Homo sapiens: one gene and its partners. The protein of the gene in region 1 purifies or fractionates together with the protein of each later gene. This does not show direct contact. Each region holds a gene or a part of one and is shown in the gene's direction. Other genes may lie near its edges.

Region 1 (3,500 bases):
TAAAGATGCAATATTAAGTATGAAGGTAAAATACCACAGTGTAGGCAGCAGATGTAATCACTGAGCCTTCAGGTCCAGTCACCATTTGTACTTTCATATAACTGCTTGGAAAATCTCAACCTTTTTGGGCTTACAAATATAATGCCATCAGTTAGAAGTCATCTTCTCCACAATGTCCTTTCATGAAGTGATGTAATAGGATATGCTGTGGGTAGCATAACAAAGTCTTGATTGTCCTCATCTCTTTTTCTTCTCCCCATAGTCCCTCTTTATCACTATGCCACCTCTCCACTCTCATATACTCCTCCCAAAGATGGAAAGCAGTTTCCTGGGGGAGTAAAGTTTTAAATAGAATGTTATGAGTATTTACATTCAATGAAAAGCTGTAAGCATGTTTAATGTGAAATTTTAAGTTCTAAGGAAGGAGCATAGGGTAAGGTTCTTTTTGGAAGGAGTATCTTTTCAGTATCTTCAGAATAATGCCACCTATAACCTATTCCTAACTATGTCTTCTACTACAGCTAAGTAGATGTATCAACTTATTCAATTGGTATATTGTGAGCATTATCATTTTTTTAAATTAGTGTGTATATCAGGGGAGCCTCTGGGGAAATGTAAAGAAATGTGACTGATGTTAATTTTTACTCCTGATTCCTTGAATGACAATTGTAGGGAGAAATGTGTTCTAGTCAGTTTAAACATTAAGTACCTAGGGAAAATGATCAATTTTCTGCTTCTCATATCTGCATTCAAAGATATCATATGTTTCATCTGGTATGCTTCTGTCATATCTGTTGTTGTCTCCATATGGAAAATAGGAAAACATCAGTCTAGCTATGCTTCTTGCTTCTTGTGTGCCATTAGCAAGTTATTGAACTATCCAAGTCAATTTTTTTATAATTACAAATTAAAGATCGATAATGACTGCATTATAGAAATAGTATCAGGATATAATGTACGTATACCCTCTATAAAGACATATAAAGGGACACAGGCATATACATATTTTTCTTGACACATAGACACTAATTAATGTCAATTTTTATCCCTTAATTTTCATGACTGAACTTTTTGTGATGTGGTGTATAGCCAGCTTCTGCCTTCATGGGCCAGTCTGTATCTCTGTAGCTCTTTATGGCCTCTGCCCCAGCCTTTTCCTTAATTGCATATTTTCCTAAAAGGTGTGAATAAAATGGTGTTGGCACACATTACTCTCCTTTTCCACACTAGCTCCACCCACCCATCTCCTTCATACTGATTGCTTAACATTGCCTTCTTGCCTTTAAATGAAAGCCATTCCTAACTATTGGAATAGTTTGCTTTCTCTCTCAACTTAAATTTGCCTGTGCTGGGTCCCATTCATTTAGAGTTTTTGAGTTGTTAATAGGTTGTTGATAGGCAGGTCTATCACTACTAGTGTTTTAAATAACACACACATTGGTAATATGTTGATTTAACTCATACATTGTTAAAATACATTGTGAAGTATTCATAGTTAAAATAAATTATCCATTAAGTAATTTACCTAATAACAGTTTACCCAAGTTAGGTGTGTGGAATGGGGAAATATTTGTAATAAGTTTGCTTCCTACAGAGTTAGTCTTGTGTCAGATATGTAAGTGGTAGAATTGCAAGTTCATGTTACTCCTAAGCCTAGAGACATTTATTTTCTGCTTCTCCGAATGCCCATTTTAGTTTCATGGGTGTTTGTAAACCCATCCTTACCTACACAGGAAGCAAAAAGGGGTTATTTCTAAACCCTTTTTAGATATAGAAATAATACATCACTCATCTCGGCCAAGACTCAATAGAATCATGAATAGTGACTGTAAAAGGTAATATTAACTATTAGGCTTTAAACCTATTGTGCATTTTAGTTTTAAAATGCAAACATGCTAATCTGAATAAGAATTAATCTGATGCCTCTACATTTTTGCTAAAATCATAACTGTTTAGTCTTACTTAGTAAAATAAATTATATCTTTGACTTAAAATCCCAATGATAACTTTTAAGATGGCTATTTCATAGATAACAGCAACATTTATCATGGACAGACAATAATGAGAATAACATGTGCAACTGATAATTTAAATGCAATGAGTTATTTCTGTATTTGAAAAAATATATTTGGGAAATGGGATAATTAAAAAATACCAGTTTTCAAGAGACCAAATCTAAAACTCAAACATAAACACAATGCTCCAGTTTTTAGAAAACTGTCTTGATTGTAGTAGTGCCTACATACTAAATTGTATCATATGATTTATATTAATTTTCCTTATTTTGTATTTTAGATTATATTTGAAAATTTTCATGTACTGCAGCTATGTTAGCATCTCAAAGTCTCCATATTCTCACTCCGCTCCGAAACATCCACTGCTGATGTTATTTAACTAGTGAAAGAAGATCCTTCCATGTTTCTTCTTATAGCATTCTGACATCTTCTCCACCCTAAGGAATGCTGGCTTTATTAAGTATGTTTCAGTCAATGACATGTGATTGGTGAAGCTGACGGTATTTGTCTTCAGTTCCTTTTTTCCCTGCAAAGGAAATTTGTTGAATATTTATTGGGTACTATATGCCAGGTACTATATGTCAGGCTCCACTTACATATACTCTATTGATGCCTTACAACAAACTTATAATGAGAAGATTAATAGGTTTTACAAATAAGAAAAATGAATTCAAAGAGCAATGCTAACTTACTCAAAAGTTTAGTCAGGCAGTAAATAGCAGCACTAGGTTTCAAATATGGATTTAACAAATTCCATGGTCCATGCTTATTCCATTACTTCATCCTGCCTCTTTCCTTAGCTTCTAACCCTGACTGGAGATGCATAGGCAAAAAGAGGAAGGAAGAGATACTTAGATGTGCCCTCTAGACAATTTACAGAGTTGTTTGGGCATGTTGCCATGCTGTTTTTCTGATAGACTACAGTTCTTCAGCTCTGAGGATGAGCTCATTTGATAAGCCAATCAAGGTCGGGCTAGGGTTACTTTACAAGAGAAAATTTCAAGGTAAAATAGGTGCTGCCAAAAATGCTTTTACCTGTTCAGGGGGTTGACTCACTGGAAAAAAAATGTTAGATAATTGTGGCCAAGGATTATTTTGTTATTGAAAGTGCTATTTTTAGACACAATTTGAGCCTGAGAGCCTAAACACTTAACACTTCACATAATCTACAGATATTTGTTTATTTTTCTTTTTGTCATGCATTGCCAAATAAATAGTATTTATTTAAACAAATCATGTTGCTATTGATTTTATTAAATAGATGAACTTTTTTTAATTTTTTTTTTTTGAGATGGAGTCTTGCTCTGTCACCCAGACTGGGGTGCAGTGGCACAATCTCGTCTCACTGCTGCCTCCACCTCCTGGCTTCAAGCTATTTTCCTGCCTCAGCCTCCCCAGTAGCTGGGATTACAGGCACATGCCACCATGCCCAGCTATTTTTTTTTTTTTTTGTATTTTTAGTAGAGATGGGTTTCACCATCTTGG
Region 2 (3,500 bases), on another chromosome or scaffold:
CCTCCCAAAGTGGTGGGATTACAGGTGTGAGCCACTGCGCCCGTCCTGTTATAACCCACTTTCTCTGTAAAGTAATGCTTCCTGTATTTGTTAGCTGTTAGAGTTCAAAACAGTATAAATCATTATAAATTAATCTGTTCATGCTTAGCACTGAAAAGTATGTATACAGAAATACCATTAAAGTAGCATTGACTGTATGTGCCACAGAACAGTGTATTTCAGATATATATTTTACATTGTAGTAATATTAACATGGAGATCCAATGGATACATTACATATAAGTAACAAATATATTATTTTTAAATGTTTTATGAAATAATACCATTAGAATGTAATACATTCTAATATTTTATTGTTTCACATAATAAATATTGTTTTGACACTCCCCCAGTTGATTTCATATACCAGTCAGTTGCCAAGTACAGTTTGAAAAATGCTTGCCTAAAATGAACATGAGTTGGGAGATGTAATTCAGTTGTTTAAGGCAAACCAAATATCAAATAAGACCCTCTTTATTATATAGTCTACAGTACTGTGTGTATTATGCATTGGTCTTCAGATTGTATTTATATAACCATACATACTGTACTTTTAATAGGTTATTTAAAGCACTTTTAAGAGTAATTTTGCTTATGTGTAATTTATGTTGACTTTGGAATTAACTTTTGTTTATACTGCAATTCCACCATATTTCTTTCATGGCTCTGTTATTTCTTGACAAAACATTAACAGAAAAAAATAATGAAATATCTTTTTTACAGGTTAATTACCATGCTCAGCATTACCATCTCACTCCATTTACAGTCATCAATATTATGTACAGTTTCAACAAAACTCAGGTGAGAATTTTGTCTGGATTCTATTAAAGGTTTATATAAGTGTCATTTGGGTTTAGTAATCATTAAAGCAAGAATAATTACTTTCAGTTTGGTCAATAAAACATCTTAACTGTTGTAGTAAAACTAAAGTAGCACAACGATATGTTTTTGAATCTTTCAAAATGTAATTTAGCAAAAGTACAATTTAATTTAGCAAAACCACAAAGAGCTGTGCTAAGATGATGTCTCTGCTATCAAGAGGCTCATATTTATTCATGGAGACAAAATCTTTGAAGATTGTGCTGCAGTAAGATAAAGGCAATATTAGAAGTACAGAATGCTGTCAGAATACAAAAGAGAAGTACCTTATCAAAACTGGGCTTGGGCACAGTGTATGGCTGGGAAAAACTTTGGGAAAAGAAAGGCCCGAATTGTGTGCTTCTTGTTGAGAAGTCTGACTCTTCATGATGAGGATAGAGAAAAGGTTTTTAAAGTAGACGTGTGAAGGCAGAAGACAAAGAGAGATCATAATGTTTGGGAATGGATTTAATGGAGTACAATGGGAGCTTGAAGTGGGGGTTGAAGAGTAAGAGAAAGATGAAAAAGTAGCCAGAGAAGTAAGCAGGATCCAGATTCTAAAGCACCTTCTAAGAACTGCACACTACTAGATCTTAAAAGCTACAAGAGTACTGTTGAAGGTGTTTTAGCCATGACCAAAATATCTTGAAGACCTTTGGATTGTTTGGCAATATCTATTAAAATTTAAAATGTACATGTTCTTTCACTTCCAGGAACTTATCCCACATAGATGTGCACATATATATGCAAAAATATATATACAAGGATGTCCTATGACATTGCATATAATAGACTGGAAATGATTAAATGTCCATCACTAGGGTACCAGTGAAATAATTATGGTATATTATGGTGAAACACCTTGTAACCTTTAAAAATAAGAGGGTAGCTCTGTGTATACTAATGTGGAATGATCTCCAGGATATTTTTTATGTTTCAAGATAATACTACCTGTTAAAAATAAGCAAAACAAAAATATTTCTATAACATACACACACAGATATACTTGTATATGCATGGATTATCCCGATAAATTTTAAAACTGCTGCTGAGGACTGGGATGAAAAGGAGACAGACTTTTCAGCTGATACCCTATTGCTTCTTTTTAATTCTATCATGTATATCTATTAATAATATAGATAATATAGATAAATAATAGGAGTATTACTGATGGTATCATGCAAAGGGGCAAAACCAGAGACAGTGAAACTTGTAGTCAAATTGATATAAAGTAATAGTGTTAAGTATGGAGAAGAGCATGGATTTGTAAGATACTAAGGGAGTAGAATTTGTAGAACCTGGGGACTGATTAGATAGGAAGAGTGAGATAAAAATGTTTTCTAGATATATTGTTTGGACACTAGGATGATGAAGCTGCTATCTAGGGAAATAGGAAATACAGCAGAGAAGGAAAGAATTGGTGTGGTATGAGTGAGTATGATTGGGTTAAGTTGTGGATATGTAAGTTTCAAGTTACCTTGTGTCATCCACAGGACAGGACTAGTAGGGAGTTGAATATATAGATATTAGGGATATTTAATAAATTAGTTAATCATTAGGGGTTTTAATTAATAGGAATGTTCTTCTTGGCCTAAGTATAACTTTAAAATGATATAAAATTAATTGTAGTTCTCTACTAATATTTCTATTAGAATAATGTTTTATTGGAAAATGTCTACACAATATCAAGTTTTATTAAGATCTTTTGTGTTTCAGATGTAGGTATTAACAGAAATAACATGAATTTTGTTCAATTTAGGGACCTAGAGCCCTGTGGAAAGGAATGGGAAGTACATTTATTGTCCAGGGAGTCACACTTGGAGCAGAAGGCATAATTAGTGAATTTACACCTTTGCCAAGGTACCATTTTTAGCATTTCTTCAGTATTAGTTTCATGTGGTGATGTGTTTTTAGATGCAGGCGGTACATGTGCAGGCTTGTTACATGGGTATATTGTGTGATGCTAAAGTTTGGACTTCTAATGATCCTCTCATCCAACAATTCTCAATTGTGTAAACATCATACCCAATAGGTAGCTTTCAACCCTTGTCCCCATCCCTCCCCTATTATATTGTTTTAATAATAAATAAAAAATACCTTGAATCTGAAAACTTGTCTGAAGTAACTAAAAGAAAAAACAAAGAATAAAATTAATTATATATTATTAAATTAGTATGTGATAAAGAAAATGTGTCTTGGCTTAGTATCTATTGAGATGTATCTTTCAGCTTCTACTGCTATGTGCCAGCAACTGCCAGCTGAGGAACAAATGTGGGTATGTGAGCAATTCCCGCTCTTTAAGTATTCATTTAATGAAGGAGACACATGTAAGCAAGAAGAGGTAACATGTCCAATGTCACGGGGTTGGACAGTCTAGGTAATAAAAGAAGTGTCTTATGTTTGGAATATTGGGTATGTATGAAATTGAATATCAGGAAAAGAAGCTGAGGTGCTACATTAAAATACGATTGTGCCTTTTTAAGTTTATTCTCTATGGGTTTGGAATGTGTTTCTTTTTTTAATATATAGATGTTCTGATCAAGATATATTCAAATGGCAGTATAAAATAAATGGAGTTGTATAGACAGATTTATGGAGATCTA
Region 3 (2,896 bases), on another chromosome or scaffold:
CAGGGTCTTGCTCTGTTGCCCAGGCTGGAGTTCAGTGGTGTGATCTCAGCTCACTGCATCCCTGACCTCCAGTGCTCAAGGGACTACAGGCACATGCCACCATGCCTGGCTAATTTATTTTTAATTAAGAAAATTTTTTTAATAGAGATGGCATCTTGCTACATTGCCCAGGCTGGTCTAGAACTCCTGGGCTCAAGTGATCCTCCCACCTCGGCCTCCCTAAGTGCTGGGATTACGGGCATGAGCCACTGCACCTGGCCTATGGAGGCTTTGAAGGAGGAAAAACCTTGGCACTGTTAAGATGAAAAAAGCCGAAAGGGCAGGAGCATAGCGAGTGGGGCCAAGAGGCTTGTGATGAAGGCATCGTAGTCGGCAGGGCCCAGATCACACAGGCCCTTAAAGCAGTAGGAACTGCATGTTGAAGATGGTGATGTATTTGTGATACCTAGCCCGGTCCCAAACTAAGTGTGTAATACATGCTAATTCCTTCTCACCACCTCCTGGGTTTGAAAATGTATCAGGGTGTTTGGGAAAGAGAAAGAAGTTCCTAATGTCTGCAGCACATGAGACAGGTGTTGAGAGATGACCCTGGAAAGGTCAAATTAGGGCCAAATTATGAAAAGTTTTGGGCCAGGTGCAGTGGCTTATGCCTATAATCCTAGCACTTTGGGGGGCCTAAGCTAGGGAGCCCAGAAGTTCAAGACCAGCTTAGGTGACACAGCAAGACCCCATCTCTAGTTTTAAGAAACGTTTCATATTCCAGGCTAAATGTTTGGAGTTTGCCACATAGGCAGTAGGGAGCCATGGAAGGTGTCGCAGCAGGGGAGTAGCATGATCAGACAAATTATGCTAAGTTCAAGGGGAGATCACAGGGCTGGAGCAGTCATGGGAGTGTACCTTAAGCTGAACCTTGAAGGCTGAACAGGCACATGGAAGGCCACAGTGACTCTCCCCTGCTTCTTTTTCAGGTGGTTCCACGAGTGTTTGGGCGCATGGTGGGTAAAAGCCGGGAGGCGGTGGCTCAGGCCATGGTGCTGGAGATGTTTCGAGAGGAGGACTACTACAACGATGATGTTCTGGACCAGATGGGCGCCAGTATCCTGGGCGTGGAGGGCCCCCGGCGCCACCCAGATGAGCCCCCTGAGGATGAAGTCTTCGAGCTCTTCCCCATGTTCATGGGGGGGCTTCTCTCTGCCCACAACCGAGCTGTGCTAGCTCAGCTTGGCTGCCCCATCAAGAACCTGGATGCCCTGGAGAATGCCCAGGCCATCAAGAAGAAGCTGGGCAAGCTGGGCCGGCAGGTGCTGCCCCCATCAGAGCTCCTTGACCACCTCTTCTTCCACTATGAGTTCCAGAACCAGCGCTTCTCCGCTGAGGTGCTCAGCTCCCTGCGTCAGCTCAACCTGGCAGGTGTGCGCATGACACCAGTCAAGTGCACAGTGGTGGCAGCTGTGCTGGGCAGCGGAAGGCATGCCCTGGATGAGGTGAACTTGGCCTCCTGCCAGCTAGATCCTGCTGGGCTGCGCACACTCCTGCCTGTCTTCCTGCGTGCCCGGAAGCTGGGGTGAGGACCTATCCTCATGCACAGGCATGAAGAGGGAAGAGGGTTGGAGGTGAAGAAGTGGGAAAAGAAAGTGCCAGGGAAACCAGAGGTACCGATGAGTGACCAGAAGGTGGGATGAAGAAGTCTAGTTTAGGGGCCGGGAGCAGTGGCTCACACCTGTAATCCCAGCACTTTGGGAGCCCAAGGCGGGCGTATCACCTGAGGTCAGGAGTTCGAGACCAGCCTCAACATGGAGAAACCCTGTCTCTACTAAAAATACAAAATTAGCCAGGCATGGTGGTGCATGCCTGTAATCCCAGCTACTTGGGAGGCTGAGGCAGGAGAATTGCTTGAACCTGGGAGGCGGAGGTTGCGGTGAGCTGAGATCATGCCATCGCACTCCAGCCTGGGCAACAACAGCAAAACTCCGTCTCAAAAAAAAAAAAAAAAGTCTAGTTTGGGTGGAGGTGACAGGAGCAACAGAAGGGAGGAGCCAGGCATGGTGGCTCCTGCCTGTAATCCCACTGCTTTGGGAGGCCAAGGCAGAAGCATCACTTGAGCCTAATAGTCTGAGACCATCCTGGGCAACATAGCAAGACCCTGTCTCTACAAAAAATTAAAAAATTAGTCAGGTGTGGTGGCATGTAGCTATCATCCCAGCTACTCGGGAGGCTGAGGTGGGAGGATTGCTTGAGCCCAGGAGTCTGAGGCTGCAGTGAGTTGTGATCATGCCATTGTGCTCCAACCTGGGCAACAGAGTGAGACCCTGTCTCTCAAAAAAGGGGAAGCAGGTATAGATTCCCAGAGGCAGGCTGATGAAAAAAAGGCATGGTAGATGGACAGACTGCCTGCTGAATTCCCTCCCTGGTCTCTCACCTCCCCTCTGGCCACCTTCTGCTCCAGCTTGCAACTCAACAGCCTGGGCCCTGAGGCCTGCAAGGACCTCCGAGACCTGTTGCTGCATGACCAGTGCCAAATTACCACACTGCGGTGAGTGACCTGGGAGTGGGGCATCCTGGTGGCCAGCTAAGGTCAAGGGTGAGCTCCCTGCTTCCTGACATACTTGGCACAGACCCACCCAAGGGATAGTAAATGGAGGAGAGTCTAGGCCCTGACCTGTCCCCTCCACTTCCCCCAGGTCCACTGCAAGCAGCAGGGCAGCAGGGAAACATGCCACCTGTAATGGGTGCTAAGAAACCTCTCACGTGGCTAAAATCAGCCTGGGGGAGGTGGGGAGAGAGGGTGGAATAATACCTAGGCCGGTTGCCTGGTAACAGTGCCACTGATCCCCTCCCAGGATTTTTCTTGCAGCCTCCCGAGGAGGACCCTAATGCTGGGCACTCAGTAGACACC
Region 4 (3,500 bases), on another chromosome or scaffold:
CATTGAGAAAAAAATTTCTATGATATAATTCAGGTAGGTTGAGGTGTTTTTTGTTTGTTTTCTTTTTTTGTTTGTTTCTTTTGAGATAGGATCTCTCTTTGTTGCTTAGGCTAGAGTGCAGTGGAACAAACACTTCTCACTGCAGACTTGACCACCTGGGCCTTAAATGATCCTCACTCCTCAAGCCTTCCAAGTAGTGGGACTGCAGGCACATGTCATCATGCCCAGCTAATTGTTTTTTCATTTTTTGTAGAGACGGGGTCTCACTATGCTGCCCAGGCTGGCCTCAAACTCCTAGGTTCAAGCAATCCTCCTATTTCAGCCTCCCAAAGTGGTGGGATTACAGGCATGAGCTACAATGCCTGACCTGAGATTTCTTAAGAACGTAACTATCACTGAACAGACTTCATCTCTTTTATAGTGCTAAAGCACGTACTATTTTTGTGTGCATCTCTTTGGTTGCATGTCTGTTTCCCCACCCAAGTGTCTTGAGAGCAGAGATCATCCCTTTTTGTCTTTAACCTCCCAGTGACTAGCATAGTGCCTGCTGCATTCTTGATACTCAGTTATTTAAAGAATAGCATCTTGATAACTATATTAGTAATATTTTCAAAGACCCATCTCTGGGTCCCAAGTAGATCTCATTGTTGGATTGCTAATGGTTCTTGTGTCACATTTTCAGGATCAGTAATTGTTTTATAGAATTGATCTGAGACTTGATAATGAATCCACGAAAACTGTATTGAATGTGCTTGTGGCACAGTTTTTTCTTTTTCACTTAACATTTAAATTAGGATATGTTGTAGAGGGCAGTAAAGAATAGATTTATGCTTATTTTTGGATACTACACAAAATGAATATTCCTTAGTATTAGAATTGTTTAGTGTACAGTGACATACATTTCCAAATGATTATTATATTGAGATACTGAACTCTTGAACACACACGTGGTTTATTCAGCATATAAAATGTTTTCATTTATAGATATTTTAAACTGCATTATAACTTATAGACATTTTTAATTGTTTAGATATTTCAAGTTTGTGTACATAAGTTGCTTACTCAATTGACTAAACCATTATGTGTTAAAACTTCTTTTTCTGCAGAGATGCAATTGAGAACAACATGGATTTTATGGGATTAATTATAATGCAGAACAAATTAAAGCAAGAAACCCCTGCAGTACTTGAAGATTTGCATAAAGCCAACATTCGCACCGTCATGGTCACAGGTTAGACTTTATAAAAGAACACAGAAGCAAATGGAGTGTGACAGAGCTGAAGTTATATTATATTGAGGGATAATCAGTTATAAAATCATATTATATAGTCTATAGTGGTTTCAACCTAAGTTCTCTTTTAGCTCTGAATATTTTCCCAAGCGCAAGATAACTTTGTCATATTCTTTTTGAGGTCTAGCGAATCCTATTTATAGAAAGTGTAGTAGAATAGTAAAAGTACGGCCGGGCGCGGTGGCTCACGCCTGTAATCCCAGCACTTTGGGAGGCCGAGGCGGGTGGATCATGAGGTCAGGAGATTGAGACCATCCTGGCTAACAAGGTGAAACCCCGTCTCTACTAAAAATACAAAAAATTAGCCGGGAGCGGTGGCGGGTGCCTGTAGTCCCAGCTACTCGGGAGGCTGAGGCAGGAGAATGGCGTGAACCCGGGAAGCGGAGCTTGCAGTGAGCCGAGATTGCGCCACTGCAGTCCGCAGTCCGGCCTGGGCGACAGAGCGAGACTCCGTCTCAAAAAAAAAAAAAAAAAAAAAAGAATAGTAAAAGTACACTGTAAAAATTTAAACTTGACTCCTTTTTGTTTTCTCTCTTTATTCGTATATTTCTTATAGCACTTATTGTACCTTGTGTTATTTGTAGATTTGTTTTCTGTACTAGAATATAAGATTCTTGAGGGTTAGGAGTATATTTTACTCATGTTGGGGTCCTTTGCAACTTTTAGAACTGTCAGCTACATAGAAAATGATTAATAGATATTCGATAGCATGAAATGTTTATATGTAAGATATTGTTTATTACCCTAGCTTGAATTCTAGTGAAATAGCCTACTTTTTTTTTTCTAGTACATCTAAGGGATTCTCCTGATGTTACTATACTGTTGATAATATTAGATAACTCTTACTCATTAGCTGTGTGAAATTGTGGTAGCTCTGTTTTTTGTTTTTTTTTCTTAGCAGATAATCAGATTTAAGATACTTAATGGCACTTACGTGTTCAGTAAGACTAATATGGAGAAAGTCTGTATACATTTTTGTGTTTTAGACTCTTGAGATCTATCTAATAACATAATTTTACCGTATAACTCAAGGTAACTAAGTCTGTTAGCATTCCAGCCATTCTTAGTTCTTGCGTCTTCTTTGTCAAGACACTTTTCACCTGTTCCTCGTCCTCCTCTTTTATTTATTTATTTATTTTCCCCTTGCCAGAATATGGCTTTGTGTACCAAAGGTCATAGGAAGATATTCTTGGAAATAGTGTGTGGAAATTGAGGAAAGAAATATCTCGCTCTTCTGTTTTGGTAGCAGTGGGATCCACAAACCTTTGTCTGCTTCTCCTTAATAAGATCCTGTTCTTGCTGCTCTTCTTTCTTCTCATGACTGAGAAGTTGTCTCTCTTGTTTCTCGTTTACACCTGTTCTTATTACCTGTCTTACCTTTTTGTTTTGTATGATCTTGCTTTTGTAATTCATCATTTTCTATGATATGGTGCTGGTGTTCTTGCACAGACCACTAGTCACTTTGTAAAGTTATTTCGGTAAGTATTTATTGAGCCACCTGATCTGTGTGTAGCACCGTGCCAGGTATTGTGTAGATACAAATAGTGCATGACTGGAAAAGATTGAGAATTATATTTGGCTTTAAAAATTGTGGGTGAGATGTTTTCTTTAGCATATAACGTGCTTGCGTTATTTGAGGCTTCTTTTGATAAGTATGCTCCAATTTTGTTATTTTTAAACTGTAAGTGGAAGAACCATACATTATCGTTACTCTGCCAGCCCAGTCATGGAGACTGTAGTAGATTCTCAGCAAGTACATGTTTGATACGTTCACGTTTCCATTTTAATTTCAATACATTTAAAATATTTTGAAAATTAGGTGACAGTATGTTGACTGCTGTCTCTGTGGCCAGAGATTGTGGAATGATTCTACCTCAGGATAAAGTGATTATTGCTGAAGCATTACCTCCAAAGGATGGGAAAGTTGCCAAAATAAATTGGCATTATGCAGACTCCCTCACGCAGTGCAGTCATCCATCAGCAATTGACCCAGAGGTAAGGTCAAGATCGACTGTCCGTTTTAAAGTTTGTTGATTTAAATTTAGTCTGAAAAAATAAAAAAAGTGGTGCATTAAAACACAGTAAAGCAAAAACTAAATGAAAACAGAAGTCAGGGCTATTTTTTCAGAGATTATGTTTCATTAGGACTGGGACAGACCCAGGAATCTCAATGTTCAAATTTTGATATTTAGCTAAGATGAGAAGCATA
Region 5 (3,500 bases), on another chromosome or scaffold:
TAATCCTAGCACTTTGGGAGACCAAGGCTGGAGGATCGCTTGACCAAAGGAGTTCGAGACCAGCCTGGGCAACACATTGAGACCCCGTCTCTATGAGTTAAAAAAAAAAAAAAAAAAAAGTCAACAGTAGTTATCACGTGGATGGTGAGTTGTTTGGGGACTCTGTTTTGTTTCATTTTGTGTTTATGTATATTTCTGTGGTTTCTGTAATGACCTCTTGTTTAAAAAACCAGATTGATGAGCTGCTTGTAATTTCAGTGATACTAAAAATTGTTTCTGCTTTTATTTTTCAGATTAACAAAATATATTGTGTTACTATGTTTCACTAAATTTTTGAAGGCTGTGGGACTTTTCGAATCATATGATCTCCTAAAAGCTGTTCACATTGTTCAGTTCATTTTTATATTAAAACTTGGGTGAGTGTGGGGGGGGGTTTTTTCTTGATATTTTTTATTTCTTTGAAAATCCTGTTTTAACAGAGTATCTTTAAGAAACTTTACATACAATATTTTGTTTGTTCCTCCTGACAAGTATTTGATAAACTTTTTTAACTGGGAGTATACTTAAGATTAGAGGTACAAAGAGACTGAAAAGAAAACGGATTGTTGTGCTCTAATCACTTGCCTAAACACAAACTTTGATGAGATTTTTGCAAATTTAGTTTTTGGGCTATTTATTATTATTATTATTCACTGCATAATCCTTTCTTAGTACAGAGTCCTCATGTAGTGTGAACATTAATTTATTCTACTTATACGAAATGCTTTTTTTTTTTCTTTTTTGAGACACAGTCTCACTCTGTCACCAGGCTGGAGTGCAGTGGCGTGATCTTGGCTCACTGCAAGATCACTGCCTCCTATGTTCAAGCGATTCTCCTGCCTCAGCCTCCCGAGTAGCTGGGACTACAGGCGCTCACCACCATGCCCAGCTAATTTTTGTATTTTTAATAGAGACAGGGTTTCACCATGTTGGCCAGGATGGTCTCAATCTCTTGACCTTGTGATCTGCCCGCCTCAGCCTCCCAAAGTGCTGGGATTACAGGCATGAGCCACCACGCCTGGCCTACATATAAGAAATTCTAAATAAAGATTTCTTGGACCTTGAGATTGATAGTGACCACCCTCTGTGTTAATAAAAACCTGTTAAAGACTCTTGGGAGTCAGCTGGGCACGGTGGCTCATGCCTGTAATCCCAGCACTTTGGGAGGCGGAGGCAGGTGGATCGCCTGAGGTCAGGAGTTGGAGACCAGCCTGGCCAACATGTCGAAAGCCTGTCTCTACTAAAGATACAAAAATTAGCCAAGCGTGGTGGCATGTGCCTGTAATCCCAGCTACAAGGGGTGCTGAGGCAGGAGGATTGCTTGAACCTGGGAGGCAGCGGTTGCAGTGAGCTGAGATCATGCCACTGCACTCCAGCCTGGGCAACAGAGCGAGACTCCATTTAAAAAAAAAAACAAAAACAACACTCTTCGAAGTATAATTTTGGTAAGTTGGGAAAGAGATTATTGACTAGGAAATATTAAGCACCAGTGACGTGCTTTTTTTTTTTTTTTTTTTTTTTGAGACAGTCTGGCTAGGTTGCGCAGGCTGGAGTGCAGTGGCTCAATCTCAACTCACTGCAGCCTCTGCCTCCAGGGTTCAAGCAATTCTGTCTCAGCCTCCTGAGTAGCTAGGATTACAGGTGTGTCCCACCATGGCCAGCTAATTTTTGTATTTTTTTTAGTAGACACGGGGTTTTGCCATGTTGGCCAGGCTGGTCTCCAACTCCTGACCTCAGGTGATCCGCCCACCTCGGCCACCCAAAGTGCTGGGATTACAAGCTTGAGCCACTGTGCCTGGCCAAGTTGTGTGCATTTTTATATAACTATTTTGGCAATGTGAAAGGTAGGGATATATAATTAGTAATTTCTTCATTTTCATTATACTATTTCAAGATTTATTACTGAATTTTAGAGAAAATAGGAATTCTCTTCTTTGATATTTTAAGATATAAAAAAAATTGTGACTCCTTTATTTTTGTGGCTTGTTAGCTGGTTCTGAAGACAGTTAGAAAATAAGAGTTCTCGGCCAGGTGTGATAGCTCATGCCTGTTTTCCCAGCAGTTTGGGAGGCCGAGGCAGGCGGATCACCTGAAGTCAGGAGTTCGAGACCAGCCTGGCCAACGTGTTGAAACACCATCTCTACTAAAAATACGAAAAATTGGCTGGGCGTGGTGGCGCACACCTGTAATCCCTGCTACTCAGGAGGCTGAGGCAGGAGAATTGCTTGAACCCGGGAGGCAGAGGTTGCAGTGAGCCAAGATCGTGCCACTGCACTCCAGCCTGGTGACAGAGCAAGACTCCATCTCAAAAAAAAAAAAAAAAAAGTTATCAAAATATTGCAATAGGAGTTTTACTAAAATAAGTATAATTAATTCTCCAGTATGATTTATTCAGAGGATAACACTTCAAGTTCTGGCATATTTGTTTAAAATAAGTGTCTTTACTTAAAACTGTATCTTGTGTTTAATATGGATTAATATTAATATATTAATGTTTCAATATTTACAGGACTGCATTTTTTATGGTTTTGTTTCAAAAGCCATTTTCTTCTGGGAAAACTATTACCAAACACCAGGTAAGATTTTTGCAGAATCTTTTATTCCTAGCAGCTTCTCGTTTAGTGGGCCAGGAGGCAATGCTTATTTTTTATAATGGGTACTTAATGAATGATTTAAGTATGCCACAGAACAATTTTAGAGTTAACTTGCTCTTGTCTTTTCAGAATGGAGACTTTAAATCATAAAGTACTAAGATCATGGAATGTTTTTAAAAAAAACAAGAGGGTAAAAAAAATTATAAAGCATTCATGTAATTGTTTTCTTCAGTACACACTTCTTATTCTGAAAGATTTACAAATTGGACATGAAAGCATGCCCAAGAGCCTAGTACAAATGTCACTGGAAAGCTGACAAAGCATAGGGGTTAAGAGTGTGATTTCTGGAGTCAGACAAAGTCATGTTCTGTCTGTCCTCCTTACTGACCCTTACTTTGGGCAAGTTACTTGATTTCTCTCTACCTTAATTTGCTCACTGTAAAATGGAGATAACAGTAACTTCCTAACAGAACTGTGAGGAAAAATGAATTAATACTTATGAAGTTCTTAGAATGATGCCTCATCATCATTGTGACAATGTGACACCCTCATGATCATTGTCACTGTTCTCTTTAGGCAGCTGTGATTCAAACTAGAAATGTCCTACATTTTGCATAATCATCTCACATCGTCACTTCTTTGGGCAGCAGTTATACCATAGTACATGTTTGCTTTATGCCATGACTTACAAACCTGCGTCATAATTTTTTTATTAGAAAGACGAATTTAAGTACTTCTGTTTCAGAGACCAAGAACATTTTTTAAAATATGATTAATAGTCTAAACCCCATTTTAACTTTTTTCTCTCCTTTCAGATAATTGGATCACTAAAAATTCCTGGTAGAAAAGAATTTAAAGACAAAAAGT
Region 6 (3,500 bases), on another chromosome or scaffold:
CTGCTCCAACCTTTGGCCTTCTCTGTGGTCATCCTGAAAGTAAATTCCGTGTTATGGTACTGTGTGAAATGTCTGTTGCCCTGAGCACGGGGTGACCTGCCTGTTTAATACGCGTTGTGGCGGCCTCGCACTTCCAGGTTTGTAGTGTTTCCACATTCATTCACTCGCGAAAGCCGTGGTGTGAGCAGTGCAGAAATGAATGTCTTCAAGTCTGTCTTTCAGATGAGAACACAGACTCACATGGTCAAATGCCTGTCCAAGGCCCAGGGTTAGCAAGTAGCAGAGCTGGGGCTCGAACCCATGTTCTCTGACCCTCCAGCCAGTGGCATTTCCCCTAACCCATCTATACTCTCCTCTAAAGTGGCATCTCCAGATTGGGTCTGTAGTAGTCTGCTAGGGCTGCCATAACATCAAGTACCAGACTGAATGGCTTAAACAATAGACATTTATTTTCTCACAGTTCTGGAGGTTAGAAGTCCAAGATCAAGGTGGCAGGGTTGATTTTTTTTTTTTGTTGTTGTTGTTGTTGTTTTTTGTTTTTTGAGACCGAGTCTCGCTCTGTTGCCCAGGCTGGAGTGCAGTGGCACAATCTCGGCTCACTGCAAGCTCCACCTCCTGGGTTCACGCCATTCTCCTGCCTCAGCCTCCCGAATAGCTGGGACTACAGGTGCCCGCCACTATGCCCGGCTGCTTTTTTGTATTTTTAGTAGAGACAGGGTTTCACAGTGTTAGCCATGATGGTCTCGATCTCCTGGCCTCGTGATCTGCCCGCCTCGGCCTCCCAAAGTGCTGGGATTACAGGTGTGAGCCACCGCGCCCGGCCTGCAGGGTTGATTTCTTCCGAGGCTTGTCTCTGGCTTGTAGACGCTGCCTTCTCCCTGCGTGTTCACACAGTCTTCCCTCTGTGAGTGTCTGTGTCATAATCTCTTCCCCTTATAAGGACACCAGTCATATTGGATTAGGGCCACCTTAGTGACCTCATTTTAACTTTAATTAGTTCTTTAAGGGCCCTGTCTCCAAATATAGTCACATTTCGAGGTACTGGGGGTTAGGATTTCAATAGAGAAAATTTGGGGAAACACAGTTCAGCCGCTAACAGGGCCCTTTCTGTGCTGTAACCTGGGGCAAGCCTCCCCCACAGCAGGTACCACAGCCCCAGATGACTCTTTGCTGTAGAAAATCAAGTGACCTCAGTCTCTCTCTCACCCTCTGTTTTCTTGCTGCAGCTGATTGGGGCCCTGGTCCTGTCTGTGGGCATCTATGCAGAGGTTGAGCGGCAGAAATATAAAACCCTTGAAAGTGCCTTCCTGGCTCCAGCCATCATCCTCATCCTCCTGGGCGTCGTCATGTTCATGGTCTCCTTCATTGGTGTGCTGGCGTCCCTCCGTGACAACCTGTACCTTCTCCAAGCAGTGAGTGGACCACACCACCCCTCAGCCGGGACTCCCCAGGAGAGCTGGGGCGCCTGCCCCTGTGCCCTTGGGCAGCTCAGTTTCTTTTGTCCCTGCCTCAAACCACCTCCTTTAGAGAGCTCCTTAGATCAGCCCATCTGACCACACTGGCCCAAGAATGCCCAGGCCACCTCCCCTCCTGCATGTAAAAGCTGATTTGAATACTGTTCTTACTTAAACTCTGTGTTCATCTGGATGCTCAGTTGCGAGTAGGAAAAACCACACTCAAATGAGAGCAAGCAAAGACAAAAAAAGGAGATGGTAGTGAGTCATTAGCTCATGCAACCAGCAAACCCACACTGGGTCCAGGGGTTTAGATGGCGCCACTGGGCAGGGTTGGGCAATCTCCCCAGCCCCTGCCAGCCGGGGCTGCTCCCTTTGCAGTGGTCACTGCCGGCGTCAGGCCAACAAAGTCCTTATGGTTCTAGATCTCAGGAAATCTTTCCTACCAGCTCTGGCCAAAGTCCCAGGACTCTGGTGGGCCTGGCTTGGGCCATGTGCCCATTCTGGGATGGGGCATGGGGAGTCAATCCTACCTGTATCCCATTATTGTGGGGTGAGGGATGACTCCCTAAAGCTGGGGGTAGTGAGTAGGCAGATCCATTCACTCTGCACTTGTGTGTCTCTTGACCTCATTGTCTCCCCTCATATGGGAAGCCCCTACGATCCACTGTAAACCGGGTTTGGGTGCTACTTGAGGCTGGAATTTGCTGAAATCAGTTTGGGTAATGCCTGCTCTCTAGTAAAGGGCAGAGGTGGGGGTGCATATCCTCTAAGCTTCAGCCATCCCCCTCACCCACTGTGGGGGATCTGGGAAGTCACATCTGAGGGCTCTCTGTGGGGAGCTGGACATACTGCCCCAGCCTGCCCATTAAGCCAGGCCTAGCCCCTCTGGCTCAGTGGCAACGAGGCCCAGCTCTCCTTATGGTGGTGGGGGAAGGGCGTGCTCTTCCACATAGACCCCCAAGACAAATGGAGGTAACCATTTGGCTGGGACAGCTGAGTCACTCTTCCTGCCCTCCGGCTCCAGAGACAGGTTTTCCTGGGGCCTGCCTGTCCACGTCCACGTTCTCACAGGAGGAGGGGGCAGAGGCCTAGGAGCTGGTAGGAGCTCCCCGAGGGATGCTTCTCTTTGTGCTTGCTCTTGGAGCAGATGGTGCCTCCCCTGTACCCCACACACGCCCACTGCTCCTCTCCAGGTGAGTCTCTGAATTCTGTTTTCCAGTTCATGTACATCCTTGGGATCTGCCTCATCATGGAGCTCATTGGTGGCGTGGTGGCCTTGACCTTCCGGAACCAGGTGGGCCTGTGGATTTGTGTATCGGCCATGTGTGTATGGAGCACCCACTGTGGGTGCCTTGGGCTAACTGGGGGTATGGCAGTGAGCAGGGCAGATAACCCCCATGGAGCTTTCATTCTGCTGAAAGAGAATGACAGGCACTGAACAAGTAAAGCAGCGACTAAGAAAATGAACCAAGCTGACATGAGAGCGCCTGGGGAGGAGATGGGAGGCCCGTGCTGAAATGGTAAAAGGAGCCAGCTGAGTGAGGTCCCAGCAGAGGGAAGCTGAGCAGAAATGAGCTTAGCATGTGAGCAAAACAGCGTGGAGGCCACGTGGCTGAGGGTAGGTGGGGTGGAGAGGGGTGGAAGGTGAAGTCGAAAGGGCTGGCCAGGCAGATCACAGAGGTCCTTGTAGGCCATGAGTTGGGAGCTTGGAGTTTTTTCTAGAGGTGACAGGAGCCTTTGGAGAGTCTTATGTGGGAAGCGATGTGACCCAGTTTATATTGTACCATGGCTGCTGAGTTGGGGAATGGACAGTGAAGAGTTGAGGGTGTACACAGGGGCCCAACTGGGAGGCTGTGGGGGGTCATCCTGGGAATGGGGTAAGATTGCTTGTACCAAGGTGGAGGCAGTGGGCCTGGGCCAAAAAGGCGATTTGATGTATATTTTGGAGGCAGTACCATCAGAGGCTGTTATGCCGGCTAGAGGAGTGAGGAGAGGGGCAGGTTGACAGGGTGATGCCTGGCATCCTGGCCCTGGCAGGGTTTG
Region 7 (3,500 bases), on another chromosome or scaffold:
TGGGCAACAAGAGCGAAACTCCGTCTCAAAAAAAAAAAAAAAAAATTTAAAAGCCAAGAAGGGGAGATTGTACATTTTGGCTTGCAGAAGGCTCTGCAATACCACTTTTTGGTTTCAGAGAAGTGATTCCTAATTTGGGTTTCAAGAGATCTCTGAATTTTTCTTTTGGTCCAATGGACTATTTAAAGGAATTATCTTAAATTCATTTTTTTTGGAAAATGTATCAGAAGTGTCTGAAGAGGGTATTCAGAGGGAAGTCAGACTCATCCTGGTCTTTCTCCTTTGAGGTCTCCTCCTCAGGAACCACCATTGCTAGTTACTTCTGTTATGTTACAGATAATGTTTCTGCATATGTATATGGGGGGGTGTGTTTGTGTATATATTTACATACACACAGCTCTTTTAAAATGCAAATTAGGATTTTCAAAAATCATTTAATTTAATTGAAAAAATGGTCACCATTTCATTTTGAGAAGGTGATGGGGTGATGTACTAATACCAATGCCTTTAATTCCTTGAAGGTTAGGTATCACTGCAGAGGAAAGGCTTAATGGTCGATGGGCCTACAGTCAGGGAGAAAAAAGCCAGCCTCCCGCCCCCATACCTTGTACTCCTGGCTATGTGTCCTTCCTGTGGGGAGGAGAGGTGGCTGCCCTGCCCTGTGAAGTGTGCTCTAGACTTGAGCCCCCTTCAAGCCAGTCTCAGCACTCCTTTCGGTGGATCTTGAGAAGAGTTAGTGCCCTGGGTGCAGAGCACTCACCGAGAACTCAGGCTGCCATTTCCTCAGAGAACTGCGCTGCTGAGATCCAAGATGAGGCCCCCGTAGGCCCCTGGCCTGCACCCCCTTTGGTTCTTTGCCTATTTCTTATGTCTGATTTAGGAAAAGGAAAGAAAATACATTTCACAGTGTGTCCAGGCCCACTAAGAAAGTTGTTTGAAAAGATTTTTAATCGTATCTTAGTTCAGTTTTTCCTCCAGCTATAAAAATTACATTAGTCATTGAAAATTTGGATAAAATAGACAAATTTGAAGAAATAAAATTACCTTTAAAGCCGCCCAAAGACCTGTATTATACTTTTAGCCGTATAGTCTTTAAGCTCTTTTTCTTTTTTTTTGGAGATGGAGTTTCACTCTTGTTGTCCAGGCTGGAGTGCAATGGCACGATCTCGGCACACTGCAACCTCTGCCTCCCAGGTTCAAGCGATTCTCCTGCCTCAGCCTCCTGAGTAGCTGGGATTACAGGCATGCGCCACCATGCCTGACTAATTTGTATTTTTAGTAGAGATGGGGTTTCTCCATATTGGTCAGGCTGGTCTCGAACTGCCGACTTCAGGTGATCCGCCTGTCTTGGCCTCCCAAGGTGCTGGGATTACAGGCGTGAGCCACTATGCCCGGCCTAAGCTCTTTTTCTAAGACACGTGTGTGCACGCATGCATGCACACACACACACACTTTAAACACAATTGGAATGTCTCATGTCTGGTTTGGGATTGTACATATAATACAATCCTAAGGTTATATTTTGCGTATTAATTTAACCCTAGTTTTTTTCTCTTGTGGTTAAATATTCTGTGAAAATACATTTAAGAAGTACATAATTTATTTTTCTGTTGTTGGACATGTATCTTGTTTTAATATTTTTACCACTGTCATGAGCTGATATTTATTTAACAGTATTTTAGAAAATATTATGTGTAATGCATAGAATATAGTAATTGTGAATAGTTTATGTGTTAGAAAGCTAATATTATTTTTATGGGTTTAAGTTGAGTTTTAGTAATTTATACTTTTATCTCCATCTTAAAATACTTTACAAATACTTGGACTCTGCAGAAAGGCTAAATCTTTTTTTGCTTCTGGAAGTTAGGTATATCAGAAAGAAACCATAGGAGGAATTCAGTAAGTTGTTCTTGCAACTTTACTGGTGACTAGATGCAGCTATTAGAATGAATACATCTGTAAAATGAAGTCAGCGTTTCACTTCTGTTCCCTTCTGTCTCATTTGGGGACTGTGGCACAGAAGCTGTGATGTGCTGTAACGTGAAACCTGAGTGTCTTTACCGGATGATCCAGCGGTGGGCGTTGTCCACTCTGACGGTCAGCATCCTGCTCATCCCCTGTAGAACAAGCTGGATGTGTGTCCAAGCCTGTGGCTCCTGTGGCAGGTCTGTGCCCACAGGAAGGCTGATGAGGGAGCTTTGGGCCCATCATTGCTGTGGGCATGTGGACACTTGACACTGGCCCTGCCATTGATCGGCCCAGGTCGTGGTCACCCTCCTTTCCTGGCCCCTCACAGACATGCCTTCACTGGCTTAGGGAGGCAGTGGAATGAGAGGCTCCCAGCCCCCAAAACCAGTGCTGTGTGCTCGACACACGCAGTTTCATCTGAACTGTATCATTGGCCCCAGCAGGGTATTGTTTGCCTCATACGATGGACAAACGCGCTGAGGCTGAAGCATGTGAAACTTGCAAATGTGGAGCTGGGATTTGAGTCCAGGTTGTTAGAATCTAAGCCCTGTGTATTAACCAAATTGCTGACTTTTAAACGTAAGTAGATTTATAGTTGGCTTAACAATTTATAAATAAAACTTTTTCCTTTTTGTTAGGGAAAGAACCTATTGGGTTTAGTGTTCTTACAGACAGCATTTCTTTTTGGAAATGAACTATCTTATGTGGTTTTTCTTTTCATATTCCTAATGAAATCATTTTGGTTGCTTTTGGAGAGTGTCAGGTTATTGGAATAATCTGGAATTTTGAATATTAATGGAATTGCATATGCAGTCCTTTTGAAAGACCTTCTGTACTGAGCTTGCAGAGGGTGGGGATTCTGTCAATGCTTGTCAGTGCCGTGAGGGGCAGACAGGGAGGCTGAGGCAGGAAACCTCGTGAGTCCAGGCTGCTCTCCACCACGAAATCACTAACACAGCTGTTCTGCCTCCTCTTCTTCCCTAGGCAGAAGGTTATGTAATTGGAAGCTGCATCAAACACATCCCGATTGCAGGTAGAGATATTACGTATTTCATTCAACAGCTGCTAAGGGAGAGGGAGGTGGGAATCCCTCCTGAGCAGTCACTGGAGACCGCAAAAGCCATTAAGGTAAAAACAGATGGGAAACCGGCTGGTTTGGGGGTGAGAGAGATGGTGTTCTGGACACTTCCCCTTGGTGCCATCATCCCTGCCCCTCCTTTCCATCCTCTCCCCTTCCCATGAGTGTGGGGCTTGATTTGTTTTACCCCTTAAGTGGGCTGAAGATGTAAAGCTTAACCTCTTCCAAACTAGATGCTCTGAGGTTCCAGCTGTCACTGAGAACAGCTTGGTAGCTGGTACAGCGTACCAGCGTGCAGAGGCAGCATTGTTCAGCTGGAGCCTCACTGCTGGAGCCTCATCTACCAGAGCGCTCCTTCCATACTGCCTCCATGCTTCGCTGTAGAATCAGGAGGCGACCACAGCAGCAGAACACTGCCAACCTAGGATCCAGAGCTATTGCACAAAATTCACAC

What was found.
Region 2: the proteins of HCRTR2 (region 1) and SLC25A46 purify together in Homo sapiens (affinity purification with mass spectrometry; one large-scale study listed by BioGRID and IntAct). This does not show direct contact.
Region 3: the proteins of HCRTR2 (region 1) and NLRX1 purify together in Homo sapiens (affinity purification with mass spectrometry; one large-scale study listed by BioGRID and IntAct). This does not show direct contact.
Region 4: the proteins of HCRTR2 (region 1) and ATP13A3 purify together in Homo sapiens (affinity purification with mass spectrometry; one large-scale study listed by BioGRID and IntAct). This does not show direct contact.
Region 5: the proteins of HCRTR2 (region 1) and SLC30A5 purify together in Homo sapiens (affinity purification with mass spectrometry; one large-scale study listed by BioGRID and IntAct). This does not show direct contact.
Region 6: the proteins of HCRTR2 (region 1) and TSPAN15 purify together in Homo sapiens (affinity purification with mass spectrometry; one large-scale study listed by BioGRID and IntAct). This does not show direct contact.
Region 7: the proteins of HCRTR2 (region 1) and ACTR3C purify together in Homo sapiens (affinity purification with mass spectrometry; one large-scale study listed by BioGRID and IntAct). This does not show direct contact.

What each region holds. Positions count from the first base shown.
Region 1 is NC_000006.12:55,177,515-55,181,014, forward strand, and holds part of HCRTR2 (orexin receptor type 2), read left to right. Parts: intron 1-3,500. UniProt on the Homo sapiens protein: Nonselective, high-affinity receptor for both orexin-A and orexin-B neuropeptides. Triggers an increase in cytoplasmic Ca(2+) levels in response to orexin-A binding.
Region 2 is NC_000005.10:110,745,507-110,749,006, forward strand, and holds part of SLC25A46 (mitochondrial outer membrane protein SLC25A46), read left to right. Parts: intron 1-762; coding exon 763-840; intron 841-2,656; coding exon 2,657-2,757; intron 2,758-3,500. UniProt on the Homo sapiens protein: Transmembrane protein of the mitochondrial outer membrane that controls mitochondrial organization.
Region 3 is NC_000011.10:119,178,725-119,181,620, forward strand, and holds part of NLRX1 (NLR family member X1 isoform 1 precursor), read left to right. Parts: intron 1-968; coding exon 969-1,564; intron 1,565-2,446; coding exon 2,447-2,533; intron 2,534-2,896.
Region 4 is NC_000003.12:194,431,503-194,435,002, reverse strand, and holds part of ATP13A3 (polyamine-transporting ATPase 13A3), read left to right. Parts: intron 1-1,106; coding exon 1,107-1,231; intron 1,232-3,110; coding exon 3,111-3,286; intron 3,287-3,500. UniProt on the Homo sapiens protein: ATP-driven pump involved in endocytosis-dependent polyamine transport. Uses ATP as an energy source to transfer polyamine precursor putrescine from the endosomal compartment to the cytosol.
Region 5 is NC_000005.10:69,100,514-69,104,013, forward strand, and holds part of SLC30A5 (proton-coupled zinc antiporter SLC30A5), read left to right. Parts: intron 1-293; coding exon 294-416; intron 417-2,548; coding exon 2,549-2,615; intron 2,616-3,448; coding exon of another isoform or gene 3,449-3,500. UniProt on the Homo sapiens protein: Together with SLC30A6 forms a functional proton-coupled zinc ion antiporter mediating zinc entry into the lumen of organelles along the secretory pathway.
Region 6 is NC_000010.11:69,482,465-69,485,964, forward strand, and holds part of TSPAN15 (tetraspanin-15), read left to right. Parts: intron 1-1,226; coding exon 1,227-1,412; intron 1,413-2,676; coding exon 2,677-2,751; intron 2,752-3,500. UniProt on the Homo sapiens protein: Part of TspanC8 subgroup, composed of 6 members that interact with the transmembrane metalloprotease ADAM10.
Region 7 is NC_000007.14:150,289,046-150,292,545, reverse strand, and holds part of ACTR3C (actin-related protein 3C isoform a precursor), read left to right. Parts: intron 1-2,952; coding exon 2,953-3,096; intron 3,097-3,500. UniProt on the Homo sapiens protein: May play a role in the suppression of metastatic potential in lung adenoma carcinoma cells.